4 linked regions of the Homo sapiens genome follow. The protein of the gene in region 2 interacts with the protein of the main gene of each other region in a biochemical or structural test. Each region holds a gene or a part of one and is shown on either strand. Other genes may lie near its edges.

Region 1 (8,072 bases), on a different chromosome or scaffold from region 2:
CTGCCTGCCACCAAACCCAGCTAATTTTTGTATTTTTAGTAGAGACGGGGTTTCCCCCATGTTTGCCAGGCTGGTCTCAAACTCCTGGCTTCCGGTGATCTGCCCGCCTCGGGCGTTTTTGCATGTATTTTTTCAGGTGCTGAAAAAGCTCTCCCTGATTTCATTTCTTGTTGACTGCTTAGAGACATCTTTCCAAATGTCCTTCCTTGTCACTTTTTCAAAGTTAGGAGCAGGGATTGCACGTTTTTTTGATTGGTAATTTTTGTTTCAAAGGTTTGATTCAGATTCAGAGTTGATTTTGCTAGGTATGGTGGCTCACGCCTGTAATCCCAGCACTTTGGGAGGCCGAGGCGGGCGGATCACCAGAGGTCAGGAGTTTGAGACCAGCCTGGCCAACATGGCAAAACCCTTATCTCTACTAAAAATACAAACATTAGCCAGGTGTAGTGGTGTGCACCTGTAACCCCAGCTACTCAGGAGGCTGAGGCAGGAGAATCACTTGAACCCAGGAAGCGGAGGTTGCAGTGAACTGAGACTGCGCCACTGCACTCCAGCCTCAGTGACAGAGCAAGACTGTTTAAACAAACAAACAAAAAATTAACAAAATCTTATTTCTAGTGGTTTACATATTAATGATGCTGGCAACTTTTAGTTGAAATGTATTAAACAGCCTCGCAGTTTTTATTTTTATGAATTCTGCATACAATAAATAAATACCAACCAAAATATCTATACAGGCATACCCCAGAGATACTGCCGGTTCAGTTTCAGACCATGGCAAATAAAGTGATTATGGCAGTAAAGTGAGTCACACAAATTTTTTTGTTTCCCAGTGCTTATAAAAGTTACGTTTACATTATACTGTAGTCAAGTGTGTAACAGCATTGTCTAAAAATAAGTACATTATCTTAATTTAAAATCATTGCTAAAAATGCTAATGAAGTGAGCACATTTTGTTGGAAAAATGGTGCTGGTAGACCTGCTTGATGCAGGGTTGCCACCAAAAAAACTCAGTATCTGCAAAGTGCAATAAAGTGAGATACGCCTGTAATGTCTTTTTTCTCTTCTGTTATTACAAGCACTACTTTAAGTCTTCAACTACCGAATACTTGTAGACTATTTAATGAATTAATATTTTCATCATATTTATATTGAGAAAATTAAGAAGCTGAATTTAGTTAGAAAAGGTTTAGAATATCATCAACTCTTGAGGATGAGTTGGAAGCTACTTTATCTGTCATTTTTCACATAACACTAGTTTGCCCTTCAAATCATACATTTAAAAATGATCTTAAGATACATACCAAGTAGGGATTATGTTGTTATAAAAAGCTAGAAGTAAAATTAAGACTTTAATTTCAAAGATAATTTCTCTATAAAGAATAGCACAAGATATGTTCAACTATTCTCAGAGATGCATCAAGATATGACTTTTTTTCCTACTAGAAATTATATCTATGATCAATCATATTACAGAGATATTGCTGTTATACTCCTTGTGACTGATGAGGGGGGTTTTTCCTATCACCATGTTATCCCAACCCTTTAATGAATCACCTTTGAAACTCAGAACAGGTAGCAGCACAGAGGTTGCTAAGAGTAAATACATTCACCACTGCTGCCAGAAATGACCAACGGTGCACCAGAAAGAAGAAATACTGGTGAATTCCCACATACCACGACGAACAACCTTATAAAATAACAGAACAAATGAATATAAAGTAACATACAGCCATCCCTTGGTATATGTGACAGGGATTGGTTCCAGGACCACGTGTGTATACCAAAATCCATGCACGCTCAAGTTCTGCAGTTGGCCCTGTGAAACTGGCATGTATGAAAGTCAGCCCTCTGTATATGCAGGTTCTGAGTCCCACCAATACTGAATCTGCTCTTAGTTGAGAAAAAAAATCTGCATGTCAGAGGGCCCATGAAGTTCACAGCTGTGTTGTTCAAGGGTCAACTGTAATATAAAAATAACATTTATTGCTAGATAGAGTTGATATTCATTCTAGTGTTTATATACTTGAGTCTTAGAGCAATAGCCTTTGGAGACAACTTCCAGGAAGGTACGTGTTTGCATGCCTTCTCACTGCAATCCATCAGTAGCTGCCACTTGAACCAGTCTTAGCAGGGGATGGGGAAGCCTATGTCTTTCAGAATTGGATGATGTAGTACACAGAAGTAGACAGTAGAGTAGTAAGGGCATTTGCTTAAAAGCAGATAGAACTGGGAACCTCTACATCTTTCTGTGAGAATTCAGGGCTTAGTTTTTTAGGGTGTAAAATGGAAATACTAGTATGTATCTGGACATATTATCTTAAGAATTAAATAAAAGACTACCATTTCACTCAAAAAGTGCTTGATCCTGGGAAGCCATGTAACAGTTCACAAATGCAGAGTTCAAAAGAAAGGAAAAATTGCAGACATGGTAGCCTTATTTTAATTATCTTCTAACCAGCAGTAAGCATACTCTAACCAGTGAGGAATACTAGATAATCCATACGCCAAATGCAGGAGATTACATGAGACTTATATATAACAACACTTCATTCATGAAATAAATCACAAGATTAGCTCTGAAAAATGGTGATTATATTACAAATACAAATCTAAGTATATAGATGACAATTTGTGAGTTTGCTTATTTGGGAATTAGTACCTAGAGATAAAGGTCTGAAGCAAAATCACACACCCCTTTGGTGAATCAAATCTTCCTCTGAAGAACTAAGTACCTCACCTAATCAGAACAGAGTCCCTGGTATAGCCACCGTCATATTCTGTAGTTTCTTCTAGTGCTTGGAAATCTAGATTCTGCAAATTCAAGAAAATATGTCTTAGTTATCTGCTATACTACTGTATCATTACAAACAATAAATCGATACATGACTTTTTGCAGACACCTGCTTTCTTACCCGGCTTCCACATATAAGCAATTCAATTTCTTCTGGTCTGAATAAGTACTTTAAGGGAGATTCATTGGTCACCATATGAAAACCTCTCCGAAAAGCCTTGAACTGTTTTTCTACTGATTTATTGAGAATGTAGTCAGAATAAAGATTGACAAATTCCTGTAGAAAACATTAATCACAAGAACTTCTTATAATATGCTATGCAAACAAAACACAAGTTATTGGGCTGCATAGCTTTTTAATTTTTCCAAGAAAAAAACATTCAAGAATATTCTTAAAAATTCAATTTTACACCTACTTCTTAACAATTTCACAATTCTCTGTTATAGCCAATATTAAGCTATGAAAAGGCCATATACATAAAACTGTCAAGAATATTCTTAAAAATTCAATTTTACACCTACAAAGAAAACTACTTCTTACAATTTCACAATTCTCTGTTACAGCCAATATTAAGCTATGAAAAGGCCATATACACAAAACTGTCATACTTATAAATGTCAATTTCGATAATGTATTAAACAGAACTGAATATAAATGCTGGAGACGCAGAAAATTCTTTAGGTTCTCTCAACTAGGTATGTAAACAGACACATTTAAACCATGTATCCATCTATTTATAAATGCCAACCGTTTTAAGAGAGTACAATATATTTGATTTAAGCAAACCAGGAAGTCCCAAGTTTTCTACCATAGAATATTTGGTAAGCTGCCTACTGTATCCAGTTCAGCAAAAATGTGGAAGTACTGACTGACACATAAACTACTGTATCAAATCATAAAAGGAAAATGTGCTTTGTACCCTTAGTGTGTATAATATTTAATCAAAAAATTATATCAATATAAACATGTTTCTTAAAGGTATACTATATATTTGTCATAATTTTTTGCTTGTTATGTTCTGGGTTATTCCCATTCCCGATGAACACATTTTAGTCAATAGAAACCCAAATCTGACGTAAAGTATACTTTTCAGAAATGTATTTTTATCACAAACAGGATATACATGTGTAAATTAAATGTAATTTTTATTTGTTCTGTGATAAAGACCTTAATCATGAGGTTCCTGCTTACAGCTTAATACAAGAAACACCCTGCTTCTTGCTTTATACTACAACCACACTTAGCTATTAACTATCTCCTGCTTCATGTCCTCTTTCTCTAAAAGGGGCTTTAGTGCCCAACTGTGTGCTTTCATACCAACTTATATCCAAGATTTAGAAAAGTGGACTCTAGCATTTACATAAACTTAGTTACTTGTTTTTTTTTTGTACAGACTATATTAGATACTTCTTTAAAAATTATAAGCATACATGCTTTGAAAGTGTTAATGAAGAGACAAAATGTGACATAAAAACATTTATTACCTTCCTGTTTTCATTTGTAATTGGAATTTTATCACCATTTTCCTTTAGATCATACATCATTGGGTTACCAAAAAGATCTGTCTGTGATATCTGGAAAGTGATCATCATGTCATCTTCCACATTCCCTTCATACTCCAATAAATCTTTTAAACTCTGATATAGAACCTAGCAACCAGAAATGGTAAATTGAGGCCACCATAGAACTACAAAATACAACAAATAATTTATATCACTCTTCTTAGAAGACAACAAAAATCTTATCAATAAAAATTGTAAAAAGTGTAGACAGTATCCCTCCAGTCCCCCAAATAGTTTCCAACCTATAAAAGAAAGATTGTCAGTCACTGTGATGTCCCATTCTCTGCTGAGAAACCCCATACCACCAATTTAGCAATAGAATTCACACTGTGCTCTATGAGAAATTCTGTGGTGTCTCAAGGTGGGGGTGGGGGTGGTAGGAGCAGGCACACTCGTTGTAACTACCAAGACCCTTAGCCAGGGCTACTCTGATTTTTACCTATCTCTTAAGATTTCACTAAAACACAAACAAAATGTTTAGAAACACTTCTCTATGAAATCAATCTTACAAAAGCTTCGTGCTGACAGCAATATATAAAAATGTCCCCCTTTGAGTTTTTAAGTGTTTCTGGTACTTCGGTCAGATTAAAACATTTTTATCTTATTGATAAGAGTATCAACAAAGATTCTAAACAAAAACTTTAAAATTTTGACATAAATTAAATTTTTGCATTTAAATAAAATCTAAGAGACTGAATTAAAAAAATGACAAAGAACTTACTGGGTGAGAGTCTCCCAAGTCACGAAAAGTTCCTTTTTTCCCCATTAGCTTCCTGTAGACAACCATGGGAAAATGTACATCCAGTATACAGTTATTGTAAATAGCCAGACCCAGTACTATGCCAATCAGAGTAAACTGACCCTCAGTTTCAAAAGAAGATGGATTAAACCAAAACAATTTTGTAGATTCATCGTATGTGAACATACCTATAAGAAATGATTTTTAAAAATACATTACTTTTGTATTTTATTAAGGACTGATGAATAATACAAATATAAACTTAAAATAATTATGCATATAAAACATTTAAAATATATGTAATTAGGCATGCAACATTGATTTCTATTATATTAGCACTTGAGAAAACAATGTCCACATATATCTGCTATAAATTGGGGTGAATGGTGATATGTAATTTTATGAAGCCAAAGGAATAAAGTAGTAAGTAATTTGGTGGCATCGGGTAGAAAAATACGTTAATTAAATTCAAGCTTTCTAATTTTCTACTAACACATAAGAAAAGTTATATTCATGCTTTATCCACCCATAGCTGAAAAATAAACATAAAAAAACAAAAAATGGCTACATTTCCAAAGTGTTTCATTTATAAAAATATAATTACTTATATCTGTACCACACGTACTATTTTTGAAAACAATTTTTCATTTTTTTCCTTGAGATGGAGTCTCGCTCTGTTACCCAGGGTGGGCTGGAGTGGCACGATCTCAGCTCACTGCAACCTCTGCCTCCTAGGTTCAAACAATTCTCCTGCCTCAGCCTCCTGAGTAGCTAGGACTACAGGTGTGCACCACCACGCCAGCTAATTTTTGTATTTTTAGTAGAGAAGGGGTTTCACCATGTTTGCCAGGATGGTCTCAACCTCTTGACCTCGTGATCTGCCAGCCTCAGCCTCCCAAAGTGCTGGGATTACAGGCGTGAGCCACCACACCTGGCCTAAAAAACAATTTTTAATCACAGTAAAGAAAGGTTCGTTTTTTCAAAATTAGACAATGGTGCCATGAAATTTTTCTAGCATTTTCCTAATAAAATCAGATGATCTGAAATACATAAACCTGGATAAATCTGATGAACTTAGATAAACAAAGCTATTCAATACACATGTTAATTATGGGCCAATACGTAAAAGAAAAGTAGTTTCGTAGTCTTTCAATTTCACATGGTCTTCACTATGCAAGCCCCAATCATGGAGGCTTTTTTTTTTTTTTTTTTTTTTGAGACGGTCTCGCTCTGTCGCCCAAGCTGGAGTGCAGCAGCACTCAGCTTAGTGCAAGCTCCGCCTCCCGGGTTCATGCCATTCTCTGGCCTCAGCCTCCGGAGTAGTTGGGACTACAGGCGCCTGCGTGGAGGCCTTTTTTATATCACTCATTGGAAAATTGGGGCCCGGTGTGGTAGTTCACACCTGTAATCCCAGCACTTTGGGGAGGCTGAGGCAGGCAGATCACTTGAGCTCAGGAGTTCAAGACCAGCCTGGGCAAGATGGAGAAACCCCATCTCTACAAAAACACAAAAAATAAGCTGGGTGTGGTAGCATGTGCCTATAGTCTCAGCTACTTGAGAGGGTGATGCATGGGGATGGTTTGAGTCTTCAGCCTGGGAGGTGGAGGTTGCAGTGAGCCGAGACAGAACCACTACACTCCAGCCTGGGCCTCAGAGCCAGATCCTGCCTCCCTCCACCAAAAAATAAAAGATTAAAAAAAAGGAAAATTGGAATCTTTGGAATGAGTACTACTAAAAATTGATTTCTTCCCTTTTAAATGACTAAGGAAAAAAATTTTAATTGAATTTAAATCATTTTACTACATGTTTAGTTGCTACTGTGAAACAATGAAAACATCTTAAGAATTAAGTCTGAAAAAAATCTGTAATTTCCAATAGAAAAGTAGAGCTTAGAAATCAGAAATCAAATTATACAGTATATAAGTATTTTAACCTGTTTATAAGAATTTTAAAATCTTTGAAAATGTCATTGTCACTTTAAGTTTAAAAATAAGGAGCTTTAACATGTTTCCTTGATCACTAGGAGTATGAATTAAGCTTAGGACATTTTCTGAATGCAAAATGGTTTGAAAATTAAACAATTCATATTTGAGTTTCATGGTTTCTATCTAAACATTTTTTTTACAGGCCAAGTTACAACATCCATGGAAATGCTTTTAGTTATAAGTATGGTATTAACAGGATCAAGAACAGCTGACAAATAATTACAATTAATAAATTTGTTCAAGCTGACAATGGTGTGTCTAAAAAATTAATGAATTTAATAAAATGTCACAAATGCCCTTCCTTGGAACCAAGAGCAACAAGCTATAAGTTAATCAGAATATAACTCTGAAGTTCCATTTTAGGCACATTTTCTCATGTTCCAGGGAGAAAAGCACCATAACCTCCTGGTAAAATACTCCTTTTTGATACTTCTACTGCCATCACTTCAGTTATCTTACTGGAACTGCTTAATCTATGTTTTTTCTTACAAGTATTTCTGCATATAATGCAAGTATGCTTTATAGCTAAGGTTTAACATTTCTAGATACATCAAAAGCTAGAGCTAAGGTTTACCAAATTTAAGAACTTTATGAAGTTTATAATTTTCTATCTCAAAAAGGGCGTCGTCTTATGTATCTCTGATTTACTTAGAACAAACTACATACAAATGGCATAGCTTTTTAGTTATTAATAAAACACTAGCTAGATTATAGATAAGGGATGCGTGTGTGTGTGTGTGTGTGTGTGTGTGTGTGTGTGTGTGTGTGTGACTAAGAACAGTAACAGAAAGGTCAACTCAATTAGAATCAACAGGCTATAACAGCTCAAATCTCAAAGCTGAAGGGAAATGACATACATTATTCTATGCACACTCCTCACAATTCTGATGGTACCTTCAGTGGAAACCTTTTCCTGTAATTGTCATGTACTCAATTTTAAACGTAAGCAAGCTCAGTTACTAAGTGGTTATATTTACAGTAGAAACTGAAC
Region 2 (7,165 bases):
CAGTGTCAGCCACGGTCCTTCCATACTCTCCATGAGCGAACCATGTGGTCTTCATAAAAGAACCCTTCCAGGCAGATGCACTGTCATCTCTCTTTACAAGTCAAGAAACTGAGGCCCAGGGAACTCAACTTGCCCAAGGTGATGCAAAAAAAAAAAAAAAAAAAAAGGTAGAATGAAGATTCAAACAGTAATCTAGCTGCAGAGCCTGTGTGAATATTATGTTGCATCTCAGTAAGTCCTATACCCACCCCCTCCCAATTCATCAGTTAAATCTGAGAAAATGGGTAAAGGAAGCACGCAGGTAGCTCCAAAAAGGGAAGGGAGTCCTGAAATGGAAACCTGGGGTGGGGGTGGACCAATTGTTCCTGCTTTACCTTCAGAATGAGGGAGAGGTTTTTAAGCTAATTATATCATTTCAGATCACTCATTCTTCCATTCACTCATTCATTCATAAATAACCACTCTCAAGCATCCTTCTTCTCCCTCACAGGGAAGGATTTGGGCCAGGCATTAAAAAACAGCAACTATGTTTAATGAGCACCTCAGTTAGTCCTCACCACCATCGTGTGAATTAGGTGTTATTACTTATCATCATATTGTTGATAAGGAAGCCGAAACTCTGAAAAATCAACTGCCAATGATCATAAAATTTGTAAGTGGTGAAGCCAAGAATTGAGGCCAGTTCTGCCTGACCACAGTGTCCACACACTTCCTGATACACCTGGGGGTGTTGGGCAGAGGGAGTGAGGTGAGGAGAGGCTTTAGCATTCAGACTCACTGTGTGTGACAGATCGTTTAACCACTTTGATTTTAGAGGATCAGTGGTGAACTGCTAGCAAGAAGTGGAGCTTACAAAAAACAAACTCGTTGTCTTTAGTTTAATTCTTTATTTGAACATCAAATAGGTTGAGAAAATTGTTTACAGGTGCTCGAGCATCCCGCTGGATTCTTTTTCAAAGTGCAAAAGAGGTTTACAAGTGTGTTTCATTAAACAAAGCAAAGCTGCGACAAAACCGAGTCACATCAGTAATAGTATGCATCGGCAAAAGGGCATATTAATCCATCAAACACAATTTGGCATTTGAGCCTTTTCCCATAAAACAAGAGCTCTACACTGAAGAGTATGTAGTGCACAAAAAGCATTGTTTATCACCTGTGAGAGAACAGAAACTGGCATAATGTCACTTATTAATTCAAGTCTCTATAACCAATGACCTCTCTGTGAATGCAAAGGGGTCTGTGTCTCAGGCACCTGCTCATGGGACAATATGTTGTTTCTAGGGTGCACAGCTCTAAACACACACACTGACGATGGGTTTGGAACATGGCAGCATTTACATATTTTAAAAGTTCAGGCACAATTGGATGCAAAAAAAAGAATAGAAATTTTTCTTGAATCTCAAAAGACAGTGCAAAATTGAAGTGCCATAATAGAGGCAGCAATTACTTAGAAAACAATTTTAAATGACTAAAAACGAGGCCACACTTTAATTCAATTGGAAAGGAAATGCAGTTGGAAACAGAGCATAATTAACGCTACTGAAAAGATGGATATTTGGGACCAAAGTTCATTTGCTCCAGTTGAGAGTAAGTTTTCAGGGGATTAACTTGGGAATGGTGCAGTGTAATCTAGATCACGCTCCCAAGACCTGCACCAAAGAGAATTATGGTTGCCTTTTGAGCTACTGTATGACTCTATTTGCCTTTCACATAACTAGCTTCCCCAAGCAGATCTGCCTGTGAATATTAGACATTACTATGGTGTTAGTGATCACTCCCAGTACCCACAGTCCATCTCATAATTGGAAAGTATGAATAGGAAAGTATTTGTAATCAGTGTCATGCAGGGGAAGGAGTACTCTAAGCCAGTGGCCTAAATCAATGGCCATTTCAGTGTATAAGATTTCAAGGTGAGAACACCTTAATGTGATCAAAAGTAAATTATCAGTAAGTCCCTTATTTGTTCAGCCCTCAAAAGGCATGGGCTATGGCTTGGTTAAACATATCTGCAAGGTTACTAGGGAAATCAAATCAAAGACTGCACTTCCTTAGGGGTTAGATTTTGCAACCTACATTGATAGGGTCTTCTCTTTGGATGACCTAGCCTCTCATAATTGCTGCATGATGGCATTATAGAATCATTACGGCAAGCTAGGCAATGGCGAAAAGAAACACAGACCACTAGCTATTCCATGGACTTTACTGCTGATGTTGTTCTTTCTTCTCTAGAACTGAAGCTGCCATTTTAGAAATGGCTGTAAATGGAGCTAGTTGATTTGTGGTCTCCAGGGCAGAAGTGGACTCTACTGAACCCTGGTGCACACCCAGAATTAACCATTTTCCTCCAAATACTTTCAATACTCTTCTTAATATATTTGCCATTCCCCAGATTCCTGAATCCACTTCCCCACCATACCTGAGCCCCCCAGATAAATCACATCTTTTACATTTTAACTTGCCTCAGAGTGGGGGAAAGCAGAGGCAAGAGTTTTTTTTTAAATCATGTTCCTACACCCAATACCAACATCAGCCAGAAAATATCTGCTGTCCATTAGTGGCACTTCAAGTAAAAATACAAAGAGATTTCCAAAGTTGCTGGAGACCCCTGGGCGAACATTTCAATCATCTGATGTTCTCTGCCCACTTCAAATGTAGTAGTATCTTAACATGAATAGAAACACATTGGATGAATAATGTAAAACCTTCCACTGTATAATTGTTTGGCTTTAGCTGGTATTACATCGTCTAGTCCTAGAAATTTTTTTTTGTTTTATTTTAATTTTTTTAAAAGAAAATCTAAGTATAAACATTAAAAAGAACCCACTGACCCATTAGCTACTGTCCAAAAATATTACTACTGATATTTTGGTAAAAGCAAAATTAGCTGCCCTGAATAATTTTCCTTTTCAGGCATAATCTTTGCTACATAAGATTGTCTGTCATTCAGTATCCAACAATAGGCATCTGGATTAGTGCTATTTTGTCTACTGTGGATACAAAAGTTGATATGAAATGTGATCTTCATTTAAATGAATAATCACCAGGCTTTAGGCATAAATGACTGTATACATGACAAGGTAGCTTGAAAAGTATACAAAAAAAAAAAAAAAAACTAAATATTTTTCCTTGGTTTTTGCATGTTAACCCAGTCAAATTAAATCCAGAACAGAATTACTACATTCAATTGTCTGATAAACAAGCAATGTAATTTCAAAAAAATATATATTATACTATATAAGGTGCTTCTTAAACAAACTAAGGTGCTTCTTAAACAAACAGCAACAAAAGAATTATGTTCTTAAACATATCCTTAACACAGATACATAAAATTGTCCCCAAATTTAAGTGCACATAAAAACTTTTTTTTTTTTTTTGCCCTCCCAGATTCTCAGTCCTTTGGTGATCACTTAACTGGACAATCAGAAATGAATGAAATCCACTTTTCCAAACAAGACATACCAAGAGAAGCCCGAGCAGCTCACCTGGGTCATTGGCTAACACAGACATCACCTCTCAATAGGGTTTCAATTACAGACAATAAGGTCACCCAGAGGAAATCAAACATTCTTTTTTGTTAAGAAAAAGGAAGTAACCCATAATTGTGCTAGAGAAGCAAAGGCCCAGGGAAGGCTGCCCTGTGGCTGGAATGAGCCTTTCTTTTTTAGCCTATAGGTCAAAGGAAATTGAAGGAAATGAGCTGGCAGGAGTGGAGGCGGTAGGGAACGGGGCGGGGGAGGAAGGGGGAGGATTTTCTTCCCCAAACCAAACCCTGATTTTGGATTATCTCTAAACCACCAAGGGCATACGTAATCTGACCAGGCCCCAGTCAGCCTGAGTAGTGACAGCAACGGTCCCCACCCTTCTCCCGTGCCCCAGGGTGCTGGGCCAATTGTAGGAACACAGCTGTCTACAGCAGCTGTGACAGCTGCTTCTTCCAACCAGGGCCACGCTGGGAAATGAAGAAGAGCTGGACTACCCCAGGGATCCCAGGGCACCCCCAAAGGGCAATGCGGGGTCTGCAAGGAATGTTCCTAGGTAGCTGCAGCCTGTGGCAGGGCCACCCTGAGCAAGTCTGGCTGTGCCTCAGAACTGTATCCAGTTTCTGCCCTACTTTCCCTCTTGTTCTCTAGTAGCCACAACAATCCTGCACAAGTACTGTTCAGCTCCATGCCCCAGGGCTAAATGCAACACCAGGGCCCCTGCTCCTTTCAACTACCATTTACCCTCATCATGCATCACCACAGTGAACAGTTCACCCCTGTGTAAGGCACACACACGCCGGGAAGATCCAAGTACAGTGCCCACTGGAACAGGTCCTGAAGCTGACCTTACTGCAAGTTCAGGGAGGGAGGGCTTTCTTTTGTAACACAAAAATAAAAACAAAAATCAGGAACTTATCCCTCATATAGGGAGACTTAACTAAGATCAACTTGCTGCTCTCCATAGGTCCATGGGAGGCATGAATTAACTGGAACCCATGACCGGAAAGCCAGAGGCAGAGCTTTCAGCACATCTGAATCTGCAGTGTATCAAGTTAAAATAGTCTTGCCAACTAGGGGATCTGCCTTCCCTGTGTGCCCCTTGTATTCCTATAGGGGGAATGAATTGACAATCACCAGATACTCTGCTACAGTCATATAAAAGCTTTAAGGTGTACCACTTTCATAAAAGGATGCATTGCCATAGGAATACAAGAGGGTGCTATAATAAACCCTTGACCTAGCTTTCTCCAAGTCACCAATTAAAGGAGCCACTTTAAATTCTTTGCTGTGGCTTATTCTTAGAGCCATTTAAAAAGTGCTTATCAGAGGCAAAATGTCTACTCTCCAGGCCTGGGTCTCTACAAGTAGCTTAAATGCACAGAGTTATCTGAGCCCCAACCCATAGACTGAGTTCAGCTGTGAAGAGCTACGGGAATCCTCACGCTTAGTAACATAGCAAGGGGGAAAGAGAGCTGTTACAAAGATTTAGCCTTGGAATCCCTTTGGCTGTTCCCAACAGAAGACAGAAGATGTGCCACTAAGAACTGAGCAAGCAAATGAATGGCCACTCATCTAGAAAGCCATTGGTGTTGGATGCATGCCGGAGTGTATGCAGGAGACAGAATTTGGCTAAAGTGGTGCATGATGAGGGTAAAATGCAGCAGGGATTATCTGAACCGTGTGGGAGCCAGGGAGCTCTCAGACCGTGGCAGGGAAACCCTCTGCCTCCCCCGTGATGTAATACTTTTGCAAGGAATGCGATGAAGTAGAGCCCGCAGTGGCCAAGTGGCTTTGGTCCGTCTCCTCCACGGATGCCCCTCCACGGCTAGTGGGCGCATGTAGGCGGTGGGCGTCCAGCATCTCCAGCAGCAGGTCATAGAGGGGCACCACGTTCTTGCACTTCATGCTGTACAGATGCTCCATGCCTTTGTTACTGTAGGTGGGAAGACACAGAAAGGACTACTTTAGAGCCAACCCGAGCCCCAGGAGTGCTGAAATCCCTAGAAGGGGAAGGAAGAGGAACTCCAAAGACACTTAGCAATCTTTCTTTCTTCCTGTTTAAAGACCCACTTTAGGATGGGAGCTGGGAAAGCTGAGGGCTTTCAGAAGCCCTAATCTGGAACTCATGGCCGTGTGTTTTTCATTTTCCACCTCCTACCAGGGCGGTCCCACCCTCACACTCTCCCTGCAGCCACTTTCAGGGTATTTGCTATGCAGGTGACTTCCATGGACCTCCGTGGCCTCAAATGAGATCCTATTCCCCTCCAATAGGACCTAAATGCATTCAAATAGGATCGCCAAAGCTTCTAAAAAGACAACATGAGATATTCAGCCAAGCAGGAGTGGGTATTTTAAATGAGTAAAGCAGTTCAAGACGCTCCATTGTTAAATCTCTCACGTCACTTCCCATTTAACTCAGAATACGATCTAAATGCCTTTCCATGTTCAACAAGGCCCAACTGGTCCAGCTTCCATCCATGTCTCCAAGCTCTTCCTGCCTCTCTCCCCTAATGTGCTCTCCGGAGCCACACTGATTTTTGTGCTGCCCTTAAAGGAACTAAGCTCCCCCAAGACTTAGGGGACCTACACTTGCTGTTCCTACTTGCTGGGATGAACCTTCCTCCGGTCTTCAAATGCCGCCTCCTCGGAAAGGCCTACCGCTACCCAGTGGCAGCAGCCTCAAGCCTCTGCAGGCTCAGCCTTCCTCTTTCACACCGTTCTGTTTTTCTCAGCACTCTTATCACTGCCTGAAATTCTCCTTTTTATTTATTTGTGTTTATTCTCCCGCCTCCAAACACACACGTGCACACACTCACACCCTCAGTGCGAATTCCTAGAGAAGCAGGCTTTATCCTGTCCCCTGCTAGGCCTAAAACAGTGCCCAGAGCTCAGTTCACGTTCAGGAAAACAAGGGGGGAAATGGGCAGCGGGAAATGGGCAGAGGGAAATGTAGGCAAATGGCATTCTCCTTTCCCTACTCTCCTCCTCTGCTCTCCTCCACTAGCCACAACTCTGCTGCCCCACCACACTACTGGTGGCGGGGGTGGGGAGGAGAACAACTATTATCTAGTTTGAAATTTCTTTTAAAAGAAATATGTATCATGAGTAGCAGGACCAAGAGAAGGTCTTAGAAAAATTTGCATTTTTAGTAGGGGAAAATTCAGCTCAAGTTGGAGACTTGCCATGAAAACACAACATCAAAGCTATTCAGGGCCTACAGCATGATCTAAATTACTTGTTTAAGTGTTACTTTTTTTTTTTTTCATTTAAAATGCTATAAAAGTTAAATGCCCCCTGGATCTGCCACTGTGTTCCTTGTGCAACCTGATGATTCACGTTTACAGTCAGATGAAATCTGATATTAAATTCTCTGAGTAGCAACATATGGCTGGGGCCAAGCTTACTTAACAAAATAGACTTCTGCGATTTAGATTGGCTTAGTGAGGAACCAAAATATTATTATTATTACAATTGTGTGTGTGTGTATGTGTGTGTGTGTGTCAGAGAGAGAGAGAGAAAGAGAGAGAGAGAGAAAGAGAAGCAACCTCTCCAGCTTTTCACACGATTCCAACAGAAACTCTACAGAGCTTTCTCCCTGCTGCTGCCCTCTGCCAGACGTGGCCAGTAAAATCAGCCAGGGTTGTATATTTAGTGCAAATTTACTTAGTATTAACTAATTAGGC
Region 3 (8,072 bases), on a different chromosome or scaffold from region 2:
GCAGCTTCCTAGCCATGCAAAATAAAAATCCCCAAATGCCATATTCTCGGAGGCCTTGGGGGCTGTTGCTGTAGCAAGATGGACAGGACAACCTGGCACGCTGGCCACGTGCGGCTCAGGCAGCCCATCTGGACTCTGTGGCCAGAGACCTCGTTGAGAAGAATGCCCTATGGATGTTTACCAGGAGGACTCTAGTGCTGGAAGTTTCCACACATTGTGGGGTTGCTGCAGTTTAATTTTGTTATAACTCTTTCCTTTTAACTACTGCATATTTATGCCCAGTAATCGACTTCCATTCTCCAGCTTCATTGTGAGGTTTCAATGCAGCATGAATGGCTTTGAATTCCAATCCTTTAATGTTGGGGGTGGCACCAAAGGAAAGGCGACTTTATGCTGTCTTAATTGCCGGAGCAGAAGAAACATTTCATCACTCCTGTAGAATTCATCCATACCATTCTCTATTGAAAACGGCTGGGCTTTCATAGCTCAGAAGCTGCCATGAGTAATATATTAATACCTGATGTAGGGCGCGAAGGAGCCGCAGAGGCCGAGAGAACTGCCGTTGCTGAGAGGCAGCGGGGCGACAGGCTGTGGCCGGGCTTTCCTCCGAGGCTCAGAATTGATGACTAGCTGGGGATGGGGGAACTGAAGGGCGAAGGGGCCCAGTCTCCACCTAAGCTTGGGGCTGTGGAACCGAGACTGAGCCCCTGCCCTGTTGTTGGCAGCCCCCAGTCTGTCCTGGGGTAAGGAGTCGGAAAGGATGGATTTGGAGGGAGTGTTTGTTTTGATTTCAGGTGGTCAGCATATGCCCTGCCGTGTGGTGGGCTCTGGGTTTTTGGCCTTGACGTTAGAGGCGGGTACTGCACCTTCTGGTTCAGGTCAGATGAGGGGTGCCATGTCAAAAGTGATGCTACCTTTGAACAGACCTTAACTCATTCATAAGCGTTTCTGTGGGAACAAGTGTCACTAAGGTCAGTAAGTTCTCTTCATACGGTCAGTTTTCTTCTCTTGGGCTTCTGTGCGTGGGAAGAGTGGGACCTGTTTTGGGGTGGCATGAGGGCCATGGTGCCTGCAGCATTAAATGGCCATGTCCCCTTGCTGCAGCCTCACTGACAAACCTCCTACTCACTTCCTAGAAGGAGGGTCAGGGTCCTACATGTCCCCTTGCTGTGGCCTTGCTGACACACCTCCTACTCACTTCCTGGAAGGAAGGTCGGGGTCCTGCATAGATTGCCCCCACCGTGACTTCCTGTATCACTGTCGGGGGATGAGGATGTATCCTGGAGCAAGGAGATGATGCCACGAGCAGCTGTCACGTGCTCCCGTAGCTGACGCCAGATGAGCACCTGCTTGGGGCTCGTGCTGTTTCATGCACTCACCATGTAGGTGTCAGCACAGTCCTGCAGGTGGGCTCTACCTCTGGAGGAACTGGGGGTAGAATGAAATGGACCATGTGCCACCCCCTGCATCTCCAGTCCCAAAGGCCAGTTCCTCTCCGTGCCTCTGCTTCTAGGCTGGTGGTGACCTTGAAGCTGAAGTTCAGCTTGTCGAGGTGCTTGGGCGAACACAGCCTCTTAGAGAAGAGGACGATTTGGAATACCTTTCTAGTTCAGTGTCGTTAGACTTTCTAGTGCTGTGTTGACTGTTCTTGGCGCTGTTACAGGCGCGTTTCATAGGTCTGGGCAGTACTTCTGGCTTTCTCATGCTGTCTTATGTCACGTGTGGGACTGCAGAACTAGAAGACATCATGTTCTTCTCCTGCAAAGTCCCCAGGACGCCTGGAGGCAGGTGGGGGTGACGGAAGGGAGCTAATGCTCCAAGTCCACTTCAGCCGGAGCAGCTTTTAGTGTTTGTTGTTCGGTCTGTTGATTACCTTGGAAGATTTTATTGGAAGAAAGCATTTGAGGACCAAGTTAATCTACTCTTTCAATACCAACCCAGAAACCTTAAAGAAAATCTTGACAGATTTAATAGGATAAGAGTTTTTTAAAAAATCTCTTTGGCAAAAGACTCCGTCAGCCGGGCTAAGAGACGAGAGAGAAAATACATACCACATTATGCCTGTGTAAGCTTAACAGTCAATATATAAAGAGCTTTTACAGACCAATAAGGAGAGCATGAGATCACCATTGCAAGATGAGCAGAACGTATGAACATTGAATCATTGTGCCAGTGATGAAAGGTTAGCATTACTAATCAATTCAGTGTGAAGGAGATTCCCTTTATGCCTATCATATTGGCGAGTTTGATGATACCTGTTGCTGGTCATAATAATAATTTCTATTTTGTAAGGTTTTTGCAAAGTTTAAGTTAATGTATGGAAATTTCCTTGAATAGGGCCTGGCATGTAGTAAGCATGATATAAATGTTGGCTGTTATTTATTATCATTTGCTCTCTGGAGAGACCCATATGTATTATTATATAAAATATAATAGGGCTGGGCGAGGTACCTTATGCCTGTAATCCCAGAACTTTGGGAGGCCAAGGTGAGAGGATCACTTGAGCCCAGGAGTTCAAGACCAGCCTGGGCAACATAGTGAGACCCTCATCTCTACAAAAAAAAAAAAAAAATCAGGCATGACGTCGTGTGCCTGTAGTCCCCATTACTTGGGAGGCTGTGGCAGGAGAATCACGTGAGCCTGGAAAGTCAAGGTTGCAGTGAGGTGTGATTTTGCCACTGCACTTCAGCCTGAGTGACACAGCGAGACCCTGGGCTGTCCCCCCCAAAAAAGTTTATATATGTAATGTATAAACATAAAATAGTGATTACCGAATTGCTCTCTAGAAAAGTCTTAAGTGTCAAAATCTTAAATGCCATTCTCCTTGTCCCCACAGTTCTACATTTTGAAATCTATTCTAAGGAAAGAAGATAAGTGTGTAGATATCCAGACGTGTGTGGAGGTCGGGGCTGCATTATTTATAAAAGGAGTACTTGTTAAACCTGCTGGCATTTCTGCACTGTGGCATCCTCCATGTGTAGACAGGCAGAAGTGTGCAGTGTAAGAGGGAAAGGCGGGGTCTGGAGCAGTCCCCGGGCCACTCCTGGTTTTAAGTACATGGGTCTCTAAGGTAACCATCAGAGGTGAGGAGACGGGGTACACTTTTCTTTTATACATGGTGGTATTGTAGAGATTCTTTTGGTAAGCGTGTATTACTTTTTTACAGTAGTAATTTGAAAACATTTAGATATCTTCATTGGAAAGAAAAGTACTCTTTAAGTCCTTGGCAAGTTGATAAATATGCTTTGCAATAGAAGAATTTAGGGGCATTTGTTTTTCTAACTCACATGTAAGCTCTTCAAGGTGGGGACTGACCCTCGGGGTCTGAGCGGGCTCTGCTACAGCCCATCCTACAAACAGTCTCCCAGGTTTCCACCAGAAGCAGGTTTGTACCTCTCATTCCCTTGCTTGAAACCCTGGCATGACTTTCCTGTATTCTTAGGATCCTAAGGTCTCAGGGCCCTGGAAGGCCTGCCTGATCCTGGCCTCTGTTTTACCAGCCTCATCTGATAGCACTTGCTGTGTTTGTGGAGTTTCAGCTGCCACCTGCTTTACTTTCTAGCTCTCTCTAAGTCCCCTTTGACCTCGGGGCCTTTGCACACACTGTTCCCCTTCCTTGGAATGGCCTCCCTTTACCTTCCTCTTCTCCAGCCCCTCAGTTCATGCTCATCCTCTCATCCTTTGATCCCCTGTTAAACTTAGCCTAATAGCTTTTTTCCTCCTTTCTAACAGCATCCCATTGTGCAATTTCAGGAAGGAGCTCATTGTGACCTTAGTTGTTTAATGCCACCTTTTCTACTAGCTGGGGCTCTGTAGGATTGAGGGGCCCTGAGGGCCTCATGCCTGCTCTGTACCCTGTGCTTGGCAGTGTAGGTGCTCGAAGAATGAAAGAAAATGAATGAGTGAATGAATGAATGGATGAGTAGGTAGCCCAGTGAATGGCACAATGCGGGCCTTGGGTGGGAGAGCTGGGGTGAGGCCCCACCTCTGGCCTGGCCCCTCTGCGGGGTTCTTGCCAGTGCTCTGGAATTGCCTGTTTCCTGACACCCCCTGCCCCCATCTGGGAACTTCTTGGTCCTGATTTTGGAGATTACATGCTCCTAAGGAGATGTCATAAATGCAAGTGGAGGGAATTCTGTGATGCAGAAAGGAATGGGAGGGAGAAGGGCCTTCAACACAGCTGTCGAGTGGCAAATGCGACTGTTGTGCCAAGGCCAAGGCAGGTGTGTGCAGCTTGTTCTCCAGCCGCTTCGCCCAGGGCCCCGGCGTGTGAGGAGGCGAGTGGTGCTTTTATGAAGAAGTTTTTCTCTGCTTGTTTTAAATTAGAATTAATGACATTATTTAATCACTTCTTATTTAGCGTCATAATTTTAATATGATACATTAATATGTTTGTGTACATAAACATTTTGGAGTCTGCTCTGTTTAAAAATGTGAGTGTTGGGCTTTGTGAGTTTACTGTTGTTTATGAAGTACTCCGTCTGTGTGAGTCAAGTGCTTTTGCTGGATTGATGTTTAAGCTTGAAACAATAAATCAGTTCTTAGGACCTGAAAGTCTGAACCAGCATTCCAAGTGGGAGTATTGTTCAAGCGGTGATGGAATTGCATTTTCCCTTGGGAATGGCCCATCATCTGGTTTATGTGTTGCTATTTGCTGGAGCGGTTCTTTTTTAAACTGAGGAAGAGAAGTTTCTGTGGTATCTCCACTGGCCTCCCTGGTGGTGGGGTTGGGGGTGGAGGGGGGGTGGTCCTTGGGGGCCATGTTCCCTGAATATTTCTAATTGATTAGTTATTATTTTGCAAATACTCATTTTACACCCCAGCCCAAGTACTAGGTTTTACATGAGATGAGACTCAGTTGAACACATTCTCTGTGCCAGACGCAGTGGCCAGCCCCATGACCCCAGGCTTGATCAGGAAAACTGGCCTCTGCCCACAAGAGGCTTTGGTGTTGGTAGGGACAGAGGAGAAAAAGGAGCTAAACAGGCAGGTGCACACGGGTCACCATCCTGAGAACCAGGGCTGTGGCTGGAGGGCTTGCTTGGTAGGGAGAGCCGTGGTGCAGGAGCCAGGCCCAGATGAGGAGGAGGAAGGGGAGGCTGGGTGGGTGGGAATGGGGTGTGGTCCTTTTTAGCCAGAGCCAGAGTTTCGGGGCTGCATTGTGAAAAGGGCATTGTGGCCAGATGGTGGCCTGGTGACTGAGGTCTCTGAGGCCAGAGTGCGTGAGCCAGTGATGAGCCGGGCCAACTGGCAGGCTGCCTGGGTGGGGTGGAGGTGTGGTCTGCACAAAGGACTTCCTTGCGTTTTCATGTATGTGTAGTCTTCTTGCATTTAATGGAGAGTTTGCTTCTGTTCTTTCTATTTTGTGCACTGGTGCCTGGCTCCAGCTGGGTGATGGACCTGATCTCTCTTGTTCTAACTTTGTGGAGGCAGGCCCATTCAGATGCATCCCAAGGAGGCCTCCAGGTGGTCCATGGCGCGGCTAGGCCCTCCTTGGGGCACATGCTTGGTGGTGCTGTTGTGGGGACTTCTGCATGAAAAGCAAGGGCAGCTTCCAAAACAAGGGCAAGGTGAAGAAGGTGGCTCACACGCCGGGGGTCCCAGTCCTGTGGCTCTGAGACGGGCCGCATCCAGAAGGGAGGGGGTTCCTTCCTTCTAGCAGTGCTGGCGAGAGCTTCCTCTGTGCCTAGGTCCAGGATTCTGTAGAGTAGCTGTCAGGACTGAAGCCTGCCAGGAGTCTGTGTAGAAACCGTGCTGGAGGGGACCCGCTGGGGGACCCGAGCTGGCACCCCCAGTGCCACCGGTTTACACACCAGAATTCCGGGTCTGAGGCTGAGCCCAGCCTGGCCCATCTGCAGGGGCCTTGCTGGCTGGCACCGTGCCATGTAAGTCAAGTGGCAGAAAGTGGGCCCCCAGCAGGTCAGCAGAGCGTGGCCAAGGGCCCCTGAGCCTCAGTCCTCCCTGTGGCCTGGGGCTAATCCCAGCTGGCTATTGAGGACTTACCCACCCCCAGGACTCATGTCCGAGCCCCGTAAGCTCAGGGGTTAGAGTGTTCTAAGGAGGCTGACCCCCATTCCACCTCTGGGGGCTGTGGACAAGGAGGGGAAGATGGCCTGTGGGTCCACACAAGCGGGGTGTATCTTAATTAGTGATGCCAACTGTGCCTCCTTGCTTGCAGGATGTGGGTGGCCCTCTGACCTTTTGGACCTTTAAAGTGAGCCATAAAGAAAACCATTGGGAGGTTCTGGCATATTAAAACCCCCTCTACTATAAAATTTACATCAGATTTTGCACTGAAAAAATCCTCATAGGTGGTCACAGTCCCCATTCTTTGGAGAACACTTGTTTGCCAGCTCAAGGGCTCTGTGTTGGAATCCGCCCCTTGGCTCTCCAGGTCAGAAGGATGCATCAAAGGAGATGTCACTGGGGTGCCTGTGTCTTCTCGCCTTTCGAGTGCCTGCCCTGAAGCAGCTTGCTTTCCTTTGCCCCTGAGTGTGCAGCACAGCCCAGCGTAGCTCGGTTGCTGGCTGGGGCAGCAGCTGACCTGCAGAGCCGTTACGTGCATGCCCGCTGCCATCCGAGGGTAGCAGCCGGGCTGGGCCATCCCACCCCTGCCCGGCATGGTGGCCCGGGCAGGATGGGGCCTGGTGTGGGAGCATCCAACTCACCTCCCAAGCTGGTGGGGATGTTGACCTTTTGGGCTTCGGAGTTCACAACCAACCATGTGCAGTGCTTCCCGCGGTCCCTCCCTGAAGAAGAGTGTCTTTCCATGTCAGCGTGCCAGCTTCAGCACACGCGGGCTGCGTTCTGACGAAGTTCTGTTTTCAGAATTCTTCTGGTTAAGCGGAGGCCAGAGCTGAGGCACGTGGGAGCTGCGGAGGGCCTCTTCTCTTGTTTCACGTATCCTTCTCCTGGTTCCTCGGTGCTCTCGTGGGTGTGGGGTGAAGGGTCTGATTGGTGGATGTGCTCTCTCCTGCTCGTCACACTGCCAATGTGCCTGCAGTGGACAAGAGTGATTTGCAGTGATGTCCTGTGTTCCATGGCTCTGGGGTGTTGAGTGAGCATCGGTTGAGATCCCAGCTTCACTGTCATGACCCCATCACCTCAGTGAGTCCTTTGTCATCTGCTGAGTGAGTGTCTCTCCCGCAGAGACTCAGCTTTCCTCTTCCTCCTCCCCCGCTGGCTCTGAGGACACACAGCCCTCTCTGCTGGCAGGTCTTGGGAGGAATGAGGAGTAGGGTATGTCCCCTGCCCGGGGCCTGCTGCTGACCGGGCCTTGGATGCACCTGCAGGACTTTCTGAAGCTCCTGCACCTGCTCAGGGTGTCTCTGCAGCAGGTCGTGGTGTGGTGGACGTCTCCCCGAAGGACCTTAGTACAGTTTGAGAACAAGCTCTCGTCTGCCTTTGTCCTTGCAGGGACTGTGTCATAGTTTACAGAGATTAGACTCTTGAAAGCTCAGAAGCACCGTGATGCTTCCCACGGACACTGTCAGCCCCCAGGGCATGCTGCGCTTGTTAGGGACCTGAAGGGCCAGCGTCCCTACCCGGTATGCAGAGCCCGGCTCGTGATGGTGGCTCAGCTGCTATGGCATGTCCAGATTGCGCCTTGGCCACAGTGTGATTCGTATCGAGGCCGAGCCGAGGCCCCTGGCCCTGAGGATGACTCGAGCGGTCTGATGGACACTGTGCCACGGCTTTGCCGTCTGTCATGCTTCCCAGTGTGCTGGGAGAGGGAGCTGCCCTGAGACTGTGGCTGTGCGTAAATCCAGGCTGCCCCGCTTTCCCTCCCCTTGGTTCTTTCTGTCCCGTCTTCACTGCTTCTGATTTGCATGAGCAGGGACCCTGAAGGACTGTGTGCATTTTGCCCACTGCCTTGGTCAGAGGGCTACCGGGTGTGGCTGCAGTGTCTCAAGGGAGGCTGCGTGGCTGGGTGCTCAGGTCCAGGCTCGGGGCTCCAGGCATGTGGCGGCTCCTGGTAGCAAAGTGAGGGGTAGTGCCGCTCTGGAGGGCAGTGAAGGACAGGGAGATGGGAGAGGTCAGGGCTGGGGCTGCGGCCGCATGGTGCCCCTGTG
Region 4 (7,977 bases), on a different chromosome or scaffold from region 2:
TGCCTCAAAGCCCAGCTCAAATGTGCCCCGGAGCCCCAGCACAGGGCCCTCAGGGAACCTTTTCTGTTCAAACCATTTCTCTTCTTCTTAATTCCAGAAGGTGAGATAGGGGTAAGGTCTGAGTCAGGGTTTTCAGAACAGAGGGAGAGAAGTGGACCACAGAGAAATCAGAATCTGGATGGAGAGGAAGTCTGCTTTCTCTCCCTAACTTAAGACTGACACCTCCTCATACCTTACAGACATGCAGAAAGCTTGAGCATGAGGGAACAGGGCCAGAGAATGGTGTCGTGACTCCAAGTGACAACGGGAGTCACCGGAGCTGCCCCGCCACTTCTCCAGTCTGAATGCCTGTGCGGCACCCTGCTGCTGCTTCACGGGGTCACTGCTGCCCCTCCCAACCACTGCACTTGCAGAGGAGGCCCAGAAGGTAGAAGCGATTTGTACAAAGTCACATCACCAGGAAGTGGCAAAGCCCAGCTTTGAACTCAGAGAGTCCAAGTCAGAAGCTGTGCCCTAAACATCTCCAGGGCTCTGACTTCAGATGGGATGGCCCTCGTTGAGGCCTACAGGGTCTGGCCAAGGGCCTGATGTTCTGGGACGTTCAAGTCTTGGGTAGAAGGTACACGGTGCTCCCGGCCAAACCCCACTCAACACCAGCTCTACCACTGCCTGGCTCTGTGACCTGGGGCAAGTAATCTGCCTTGGTGGCCAAGTTTCTCTTCTGCAACATTAGTGGAGGGCTAGAGCATATGAAAAAATCCTAACAGAATAGTGGGAACATTGCTCAGCCAGTCTTGGCTATTATTACTGTAGTTATTGTCCATAACGGCTGGTAAGATTTTGGATTTCTTTACCTTTTTCCTGATGGAATTCTCTGATCCACATGGGTTACTTTACACAGGGCACTGCTGTAACCTCTAATGAGAGGGCCCCTCTGTGACACCTGAGCCTCTGAGCCTGACACGGAGGTGGGCAGAAATGCTGGCCCAGCTTGGTGTCTAGCCCAGGCTTCACGTCCCTGACCGGACCTTGGCCCCAACCCCAAGCTCGGTGGCCTCCCGGCCAGCACTCACGCGCAGCGATGGCAGGCTGGACAGCTCCCCATGAAGCGTGGTCAGGTTGTTGTGGCTCACAGACAAGTGTTCCTGGGCCGGAATGGGGAGCACAGGCTCAGCAGGGTGGGTGGGGTGTCCAGAGTCCCTGCCTGCCTCCACAACTCTGCACCATCCAGGAAGGCCTCAGCCACACTGGCCCAACTACCCCTGCAGCTTCCCTCCCTCACTCACCCGGCCTCTTCTTGCACACCTCCCTGGACAGGGTGCCCACTCCCTTTCTTCCAGCTCTGCTCATAGCTGTCGGTGTTCCTCTCTCTGGAGAAGTTGTCTGCCTTCTCCACAGGCTCTGCCCACCTGGCTCATCCACAGGGACCCTCCCCTGCCCGCCCAAACCCCCTTACCAGCTTCTGCAGGGCGGCCAGCTCCTCGGGCAGGTAGCAGAGGCCAGTGCGGTTCAGCTTCAGCCACCGCAGGCTGGTCATGGCCTTGACATTCTCAGGGAAGTAGCCGCCCTGGGGGAAGGATGTCAAGGTGAAGCACAGAGCCCCTGCTCACCACCTTCTATGGCTCCTCCAGCCCATGGGAGCCTTTGGGGAGCCACAGAACCAACTCTCACCATCTGTGAGAACACAGACAAGTCATTTCATCATTGTGCCTCAATTTCTTCACCCATAGAATGGGAATTTTAAGCCCCCCCGTGACAAAAGTGTTGGCCTAAGATTTGTCTCTCCTACTGGATTCTGGGCCCCAGGAGGGCCAGGACAAAACTGGCTTGTTTCAGGTGAAAGCCCAGCATCCGGCTCTGTGGTTAGCTCGGCTCAAATTCCTTCACCTAGCATTCCACACTCTGACTGGCTGCCTGGGGTGGGGGATCCCCCTTCCAAGCCTTTGCAAAGGCGCCACCTGTGCCCTCATCCTGCCATCAGCACACTGGCAACTCACGGCCAGGGTCAAACCCTTGCTTGCGGAGACCGTGGCTCCCCACCCTGCAGGGCAGGCCAGCATCACTGCACTCCCCTGGTGTGTGAACGCCCACCTCGGCACCTCCAGCCCTTGTGGCACCAAGTCTGGGGCAGTAGGTGCCTTCAGTGCCTGCGGCTGATATTCCTTTCCCCCTAGCGCCACATTCCCAGCTGGTGACTCGGACTCTCCCAGTTCAGCAAAGAGGAACGGGGACCCCAGGTTAGGGTGGTGGGGATGGGGTCAGGGAAAAGTGGTGTAGCCACTTGTACTTGGGGTCAAAGGTGTGTACACAGGCAGGTAAACGCAGGAAAAACCTGCCTCCTCGGCCCCAGCCCCAGACCAACAACCCAGGCCGACCCTGCCAGTCACCCACCCTGAAGGTGAGGCTGACCCTCCAGCCAGCTCTCCCTCCCTCTCTTTCTCTGCTTCCCCTTTGGTCAGGCAATGCCTGTCTCATTCTTGAGTCCTGGAACCACCCCGCCGCCCCACCCACTGGCTGCGGAGGGCTGGGCTCCGGTCCCTTTTCTCTCAGTCCAGCAGCTGCTCAGACAACTGCCACCCAGCACCTGGCACACCGGCCTGACACACTCTCCACACCAACAAATCTCACTATACTCCTTGCGTCCAAGGAGGAGACTTTTAAGCCCCTTCACCGGCTGAGAAAGCCTAGGCTCTGAGAGGGGAAGTGATCTGAGAGGCCCAGGATCACACAGTATGGCGGGTGGCGGTGGCGGGGAGAGGGCAGTGATGAGTCGGCTCCACACCCGCCCCTGGGCAGCCGGGCAGCCATCCCTGAGTCAGGGCCTGGCTTGGGCGTGTGACCTCAGAGGGGCGGGGAGGCTCGCCCGATCCCCAGGCCACCATCCAGCCTAGACCGAGAACACGGACGCGGGGTGGGGGCTCCCGGCCGGGCCCCCGGCGGGACTCCGAGCCCAAGCGTCCGTCCCCGGCCTGCCCAGCCTCGGTCTCCCCGTACAGGCACTGGGCGGAGGCCTCGGAGGTCCATTCCTGGCCAGGGGAGAGCCCCACCCCGCCCCGGCCGCAGTCCCTGGGACACGCAGGGCCTGGAGCCGAGCGGGACAGGAAGCGGAGGCCAAGCGGGCCGGGCGGAAGAGAAGGCCTGCAGGGAGGCCCGGCACGCGCCCGGCCCGGCTCACCTTGAAGTCGTTGCCGCTGAGGTCCACGCCACGCACGAACGGCAGCACCCCGGTGGCCTCCATGGCGCCGCTCTCGCTGCCGGGCCGCGCCGGGCTAGGGAGCGCCGGGGCGAGGGCGCTGGGGGGAGCCGCGGGCTGGGCCAGCGCCGGCCCCGCCCCTTTAACCCGCCCGCGCCCGCCGCATTCCGCGGGGAAGTGTAGGCTTTAGGCCTCTTAGGGCCTCAGTTTCCCCGTCTGTTCGAAGACTGCGGAGGCACCAAGGAGTGCGGGCCCCCCCTGTGCTGGAGTTGGAGGCTTCCACGATCTCCAGGCTTAAGTCCCAGCGCCCCAGGGCAGGGGCCGTAACGGCCGCTGGTCGAGGCACCGTCACCTGCGCTGCTGCAGCACATGAAGCTGGCCCTGACCTCAGAGAGATTCTAAACCTCGGCCCCGGGGCGCAGAGGCCCAGGAAGTGCCTGTACTTGGCTGACCGGTGGTAGTGAGACACCTGGATCCTCGGGTCCTAGCTCTCCTGCTTCTGGACTTAGTTTCCTCATGTGTTGTTTTTGTTTTGTTGAGACAGGGTCTTCTTGCTCTGCTGCCCAGGCTGGAGTGCAGTGGTGTGATCATAGCTCACTGCAGCCTCGAACTCCTGGGCTCAGCCTCCCGACTACCTGGGATTATAGGCGCAGGCCACCACACCTGGCTAAATTTATTTATTTTATTTATTTTTTATTTTTTTTGAGACAGAGTCTCGCTCTGTCGCCCAGGCTGGAGTGCAGTGGCGCAGTCTCGGCTCACTGCAACCTCCGCCTCCCGGGTTCACGCCATTCTCCTGCCTCAGCCTCCCGGGTAGCTGGGACTACAGGCACCCGCCACTACGCCCGGCTAATTTTTTTTTTTTTTTTTTTTGTATTTTTAGTAGAGACGGGGTTTCACCGTGTTAGCCAGGATGGTCTCGATCTTCTGACCTCGTGATCCAACCGCCTCGGCCTCCCAAAGTGCTGGGATTACAGGCGTGAGCCACCGCGCCCGGCCTTATTTATACTTTTTGTAGACACGGGGTGCTTGCTATGTTGCCCAGGCTGGTCTTGATCTCCTGGCCTCAAGTGATCCTCTGGTATCAGCTTCTCAGAGTGTTGGGATGACAGGCGTGAGCCACCGCGCCCTACCCAGTTTCCTCATTTGTAAAATACTTTCTAAGGTTGTCACCATGAGCAAATTAACAAAGAATGCACGTGTAGCTCGCAGCATACAGCAGGCGCTCAGTGAGTGGCAGGTTATTATTCCGTTTTGTTTTGTTTTGTGCGCCAGGTTATTATTCCCACTTAGTGTCAGCACCCCTGTGCTCGTACCCCCCTACAAAGGGAGGCTCCAGAAGAGAAGCATCCGTCTTGGTCCTTGCTGTTCAAGGGGGCTCGCCCTGGCTGACACATAGCAGGACCCCAATAAATGAGCCACAGCTGTTATATGCCCAACCATCCTTCGCAGGGGAGGAGGGGGTCTAGTGTCCCCATTTTACAGGAGAAAAACTGATGCCCAGGTGGAGAATGGCCCACACAAGCTCGCACAGAGCAGGTGGCAGGGGTAGGCGCTGTGCCCCTCAGGCCCACAGGTAAGAATGAGGCCACCAAGACACTCTCTCGCAGAGGTGACCTAAGAGGTTGGATGTGCCGGGCCTCTAGCCATGTGCAGCCTCTCTACCTGGTCCCCAGAAGGAACGGGGCCCAGACAGCTTCCTCCACACCGGAGGCTCACATTACAACGCACAGACGTCCTGGAGGGTCGCCTGTCACGTCACCTGTTCGCGGTCTCGGAATGCAGCCCTGCACCTTTAAATCCAGACTGCGTCAGGGAGTCCCGCCCCAGAGGGAGTGCGGCTGTCGGCTGGGGGGCGGGACCTGCCCTTCATTGGCTGAACCGCGCAGTATTTTGGCACCTGTGCGCTGGACTCGAGCGCTCCGATTGGAGTTAGGGCCTGCTTGTCTGCGTGCTGCGAAGTCCGCGGCTGCCCCCGGGGCCCTAGTCGTTGGGTTCCAGGGTCCTTCACGTTCCATTCCCAGGCTGGTCTGAGCTCCGGGGCCGTGGTCCCGCTGCCTCCTCCGGTCGTCGTGCGGAAGCTGCGACGCAGGTACAGCTGGAGCGCGGCGGGGCGGCCCCCAGGGTCACCGGGCTCGGGGCTTGGCGCGCGACGGAACGCAGATCGGGGGCGTGGCCCGCGATCACCGCTGGGGAAGGCGGGGAGGGGACCTTTGGGGGACCAAGGGCAGCGTTCGAATCCTAGCCCAGCCCCCTTCCCCTCTCGGTCTCTTGGTTTATCCTGCGAACGGGGCGTCACCCGCCCACCTAGGGCTGCTGCGCGGCCTGCTCCGCCCGGGCCCAGGGCAGGCAGGTTTGGCGGAGGAGGGAAGGCCAAACGGCCTCCAGGGCCCCGCTGCGCAAACTTGGGTTATTTTCAGCCACCCGTGCCCTTTCCTGCTTCTCGGAGCTGGAAGGCTGTGGACTGAGGCCTGCGCGACCCCGCCAGAGATGGGGCTGAGTCCCAATTTAGACAGGTTGGGAGTATTTAAAGCGCTTTACAGTTTGCAAAGTAGATTCCTGGTCTCTCTGGGGGCGGGTGGCAGTATTGATCCCCGAGTCACCGATGAGGAGATTGAAACCGGCCCTGGGGCCGTGGCGGGTCACCCGGTTGGCCTGGGATCGCCCCAGAGACCGTCTTATTTTTAGTCTGGGGCGAATGGGCGGGTGTACGGGGCTGAGTCACACAGCGCTTCAGGCTTCAGCTACTCCAGGCATCTGGTCACCTGGCAACTGGGCCCCTGGCACCCACACTCTGGCAGGGCAGGTAGAAGTCCTTGGTGCCCGGGCAGGCTGTGACCTCATGGTCATCTGCTCAGGCCTCCCCGGGAGAGTTCTGCTTGGTGTCTAACTGATGTCCTAAGGTCCCAGCCCTTCTCAGCTCCCAGGGCCTGAGGGCAGTGTCCCCCTCGCAGAACGTGAGGAATGTGGACTGGGCCCTAGGAGATCTTTGCCTCCACTTCCCAAGTGCTGGCCCCCACCCAGCCACACACTTCAAGGCTGCCCACATCTGCCCCTCACTGCTGCCTATGCCATCTTACAGGTGAGCAAACAGGCTGGGGCCCAGGCCTTCACCTTACTTTCTGTGTTGCTTGGCCTTCCGGCAGTTGAGAAGCATCACCCACCACTACCTACACATTGTCCCAAGACTGAGAGGCCCAGAGAGCCCCCTGTACAGAGGCACTGGGCAGCCCTTTCTGCCCTGCCAAAGGGGCTTCAACCCTGACAAGCACATCTGCATTGGCCTGCCTGGGCAGCTTGGGCCGTCTTACTCTGCCCGTGCTCTGACTTGGTAGCTCTGCCTCTTGGGCTACCCTGTCAAGATTTGGGGGTAACTGGTCCCAGTGGTCCCCCAGACTGGCTGGGGCCCCAAATTGTTGGTCTTCTCTGGACTTTGGGCTCTTCTGAAGAGGTTATCATAGAGGGCTGCTGTGCCCTCTGGGTAGGAACCTTCAGATGAGGCTGCTGCTGAGGACCTGGGCACCTGGCACAGGGAGAATCCGTCAGACTCTGTGGGCGGATGAGAGTCTGGAGGCCTTGCAGTCATGGGTTGGAGACCTTACCACTCACTTGTGAGCTGGCAGCCTGTAGCTCTGTAACATAGGGGTAGTGATGATGACACCCTGGTGATGTCAGAGGTCCTGGAGGGTGGGCTCCAGGGAGAGAGGCCCCTTCCTATACCTGCACAAGCCTCAGGGCCTTTGTGAGCTTCTTTCCAGGCAGCTTTGGGAGAAGGGGCTTGGCAGCTCCCTCATCTCCTCATGAGAGATGGGGGCTTGGGACCCCAAAACCCAAGCTCATATCCCATCCCTGCCCTTTCTCAGGTACTTTACGTGATTTCCCAGGGCCTCGGTGTCCTCCCCTGTGGATGGGTGGCCCCTTTCTCTGAGAAATTCTCAGAAAGCCCCCCTCATGGGCTCAGCTCTGTTACCCAGCATAAGGACAGCTAGAGCACCTGTCCACAGCAGCCCCTCTCCCAGCCTGGCCACCTGCACCTGAGCTGCCCCTTCACCCCTGGCTCTCTTACAGGCAGACCATGGCAGAGTTCTCCCAGAAACGGGGGAAGCGGCGTAGCGACGAAGGGCTGGGCAGCATGGTGGACTTCCTCCTGGCCAATGCCCGCCTGGTGCTGGGCGTGGGCGGGGCTGCTGTGCTGGGCATTGCCACCCTGGCCGTGAAGCGGGTAAGGCCAAGTGGGCGGGTCATGCCTGAAGCTCCTAGAGGAGGACAACAGGGTTGGGCTTTTCAGAGGGGCCCTGGGGAGGGGTGGGGACTGCCCAAGGCCTTCATGGGAGCCCAGGGCACCTGCTTCTCCACCCAGCACGCTGGTCTGCTTTGCCCTGGGCTTTGCTATGACTGCCCAGATTTCATATACACTGATCTGTGTGACTGTGCTTGCAGTTCATTGACAGGGCCACTAGCCCGCGGGATGAGGATGACACCAAGGCAGACAGCTGGAAGGAACTGAGCCTGCTCAAGGCCACACCACACCTGCAGCCCCGGCCTCCACCTGCTGCCCTTAGCCAGCCAGTGTTGCCCTTGGCCCCCTCGTCGTCTGCCCCAGGTGAGTGGCACTCCTTCCCCTCTTTTGGTGTCACATTCAAGAGACGCAGCCCAGGCTTTGCCCTGACTGACTGTGTGACCCTGCGCGAGTCCCTGCTTCTCTCTCGGTTGTGGGCTCCTCAGATATTTAATGGGGGTGGTGTTTCTTTGCCCTGTTCCTGGAGCAAGGTGGTAGCGTTGTG

The links.
Region 1: the proteins of ESR1 (region 2) and UBE3A form a complex in vitro, tested with the Homo sapiens proteins (2 studies listed by BioGRID, with this or other methods).
Region 3: the proteins of ESR1 (region 2) and HDAC4 form a complex in vitro, tested with the Homo sapiens proteins (2 studies listed by BioGRID).
Region 4: the proteins of ESR1 (region 2) and FLII form a complex in vitro, tested with the Homo sapiens proteins (2 studies listed by BioGRID).

Annotation. Positions count from the first base shown.
Region 1 is NC_000015.10:25,351,613-25,359,684, forward strand, and holds part of UBE3A (ubiquitin-protein ligase E3A), read right to left. Parts: intron 5,285-8,072; coding exon 5,079-5,284; intron 4,445-5,078; coding exon 4,280-4,444; intron 3,072-4,279; coding exon 2,916-3,071; intron 2,815-2,915; coding exon 2,741-2,814; intron 1-2,740. UniProt on the Homo sapiens protein: E3 ubiquitin-protein ligase which accepts ubiquitin from an E2 ubiquitin-conjugating enzyme in the form of a thioester and transfers it to its substrates.
Region 2 is NC_000006.12:152,096,982-152,104,146, reverse strand, and holds the end of ESR1 (estrogen receptor), read right to left. Parts: intron 5,416-7,165; coding exon 5,181-5,415; 3' UTR 873-5,180; downstream 1-872.
Region 3 is NC_000002.12:239,390,640-239,398,711, reverse strand, and holds part of HDAC4 (histone deacetylase 4), read left to right. Parts: intron 1-8,072. UniProt on the Homo sapiens protein: Responsible for the deacetylation of lysine residues on the N-terminal part of the core histones (H2A, H2B, H3 and H4).
Region 4 is NC_000017.11:18,255,453-18,263,429, forward strand, and holds the start of FLII (protein flightless-1 homolog), read right to left. Parts: upstream 3,287-7,977; 5' UTR 3,239-3,286; coding exon 3,176-3,238; exon of another isoform or gene 3,025-3,175; coding exon of another isoform or gene 2,995-3,024; intron 1,568-2,994; coding exon 1,457-1,567; intron 1,146-1,456; coding exon 1,074-1,145; intron 1-1,073. Other genes in the region: MIEF2 (mitochondrial dynamics protein MID49), read left to right, coding at 5,684-5,709, 7,262-7,415, 7,634-7,796. UniProt on the Homo sapiens protein: Is a regulator of actin polymerization, required for proper myofibril organization and regulation of the length of sarcomeric thin filaments. It also plays a role in the assembly of cardiomyocyte cell adhesion complexes.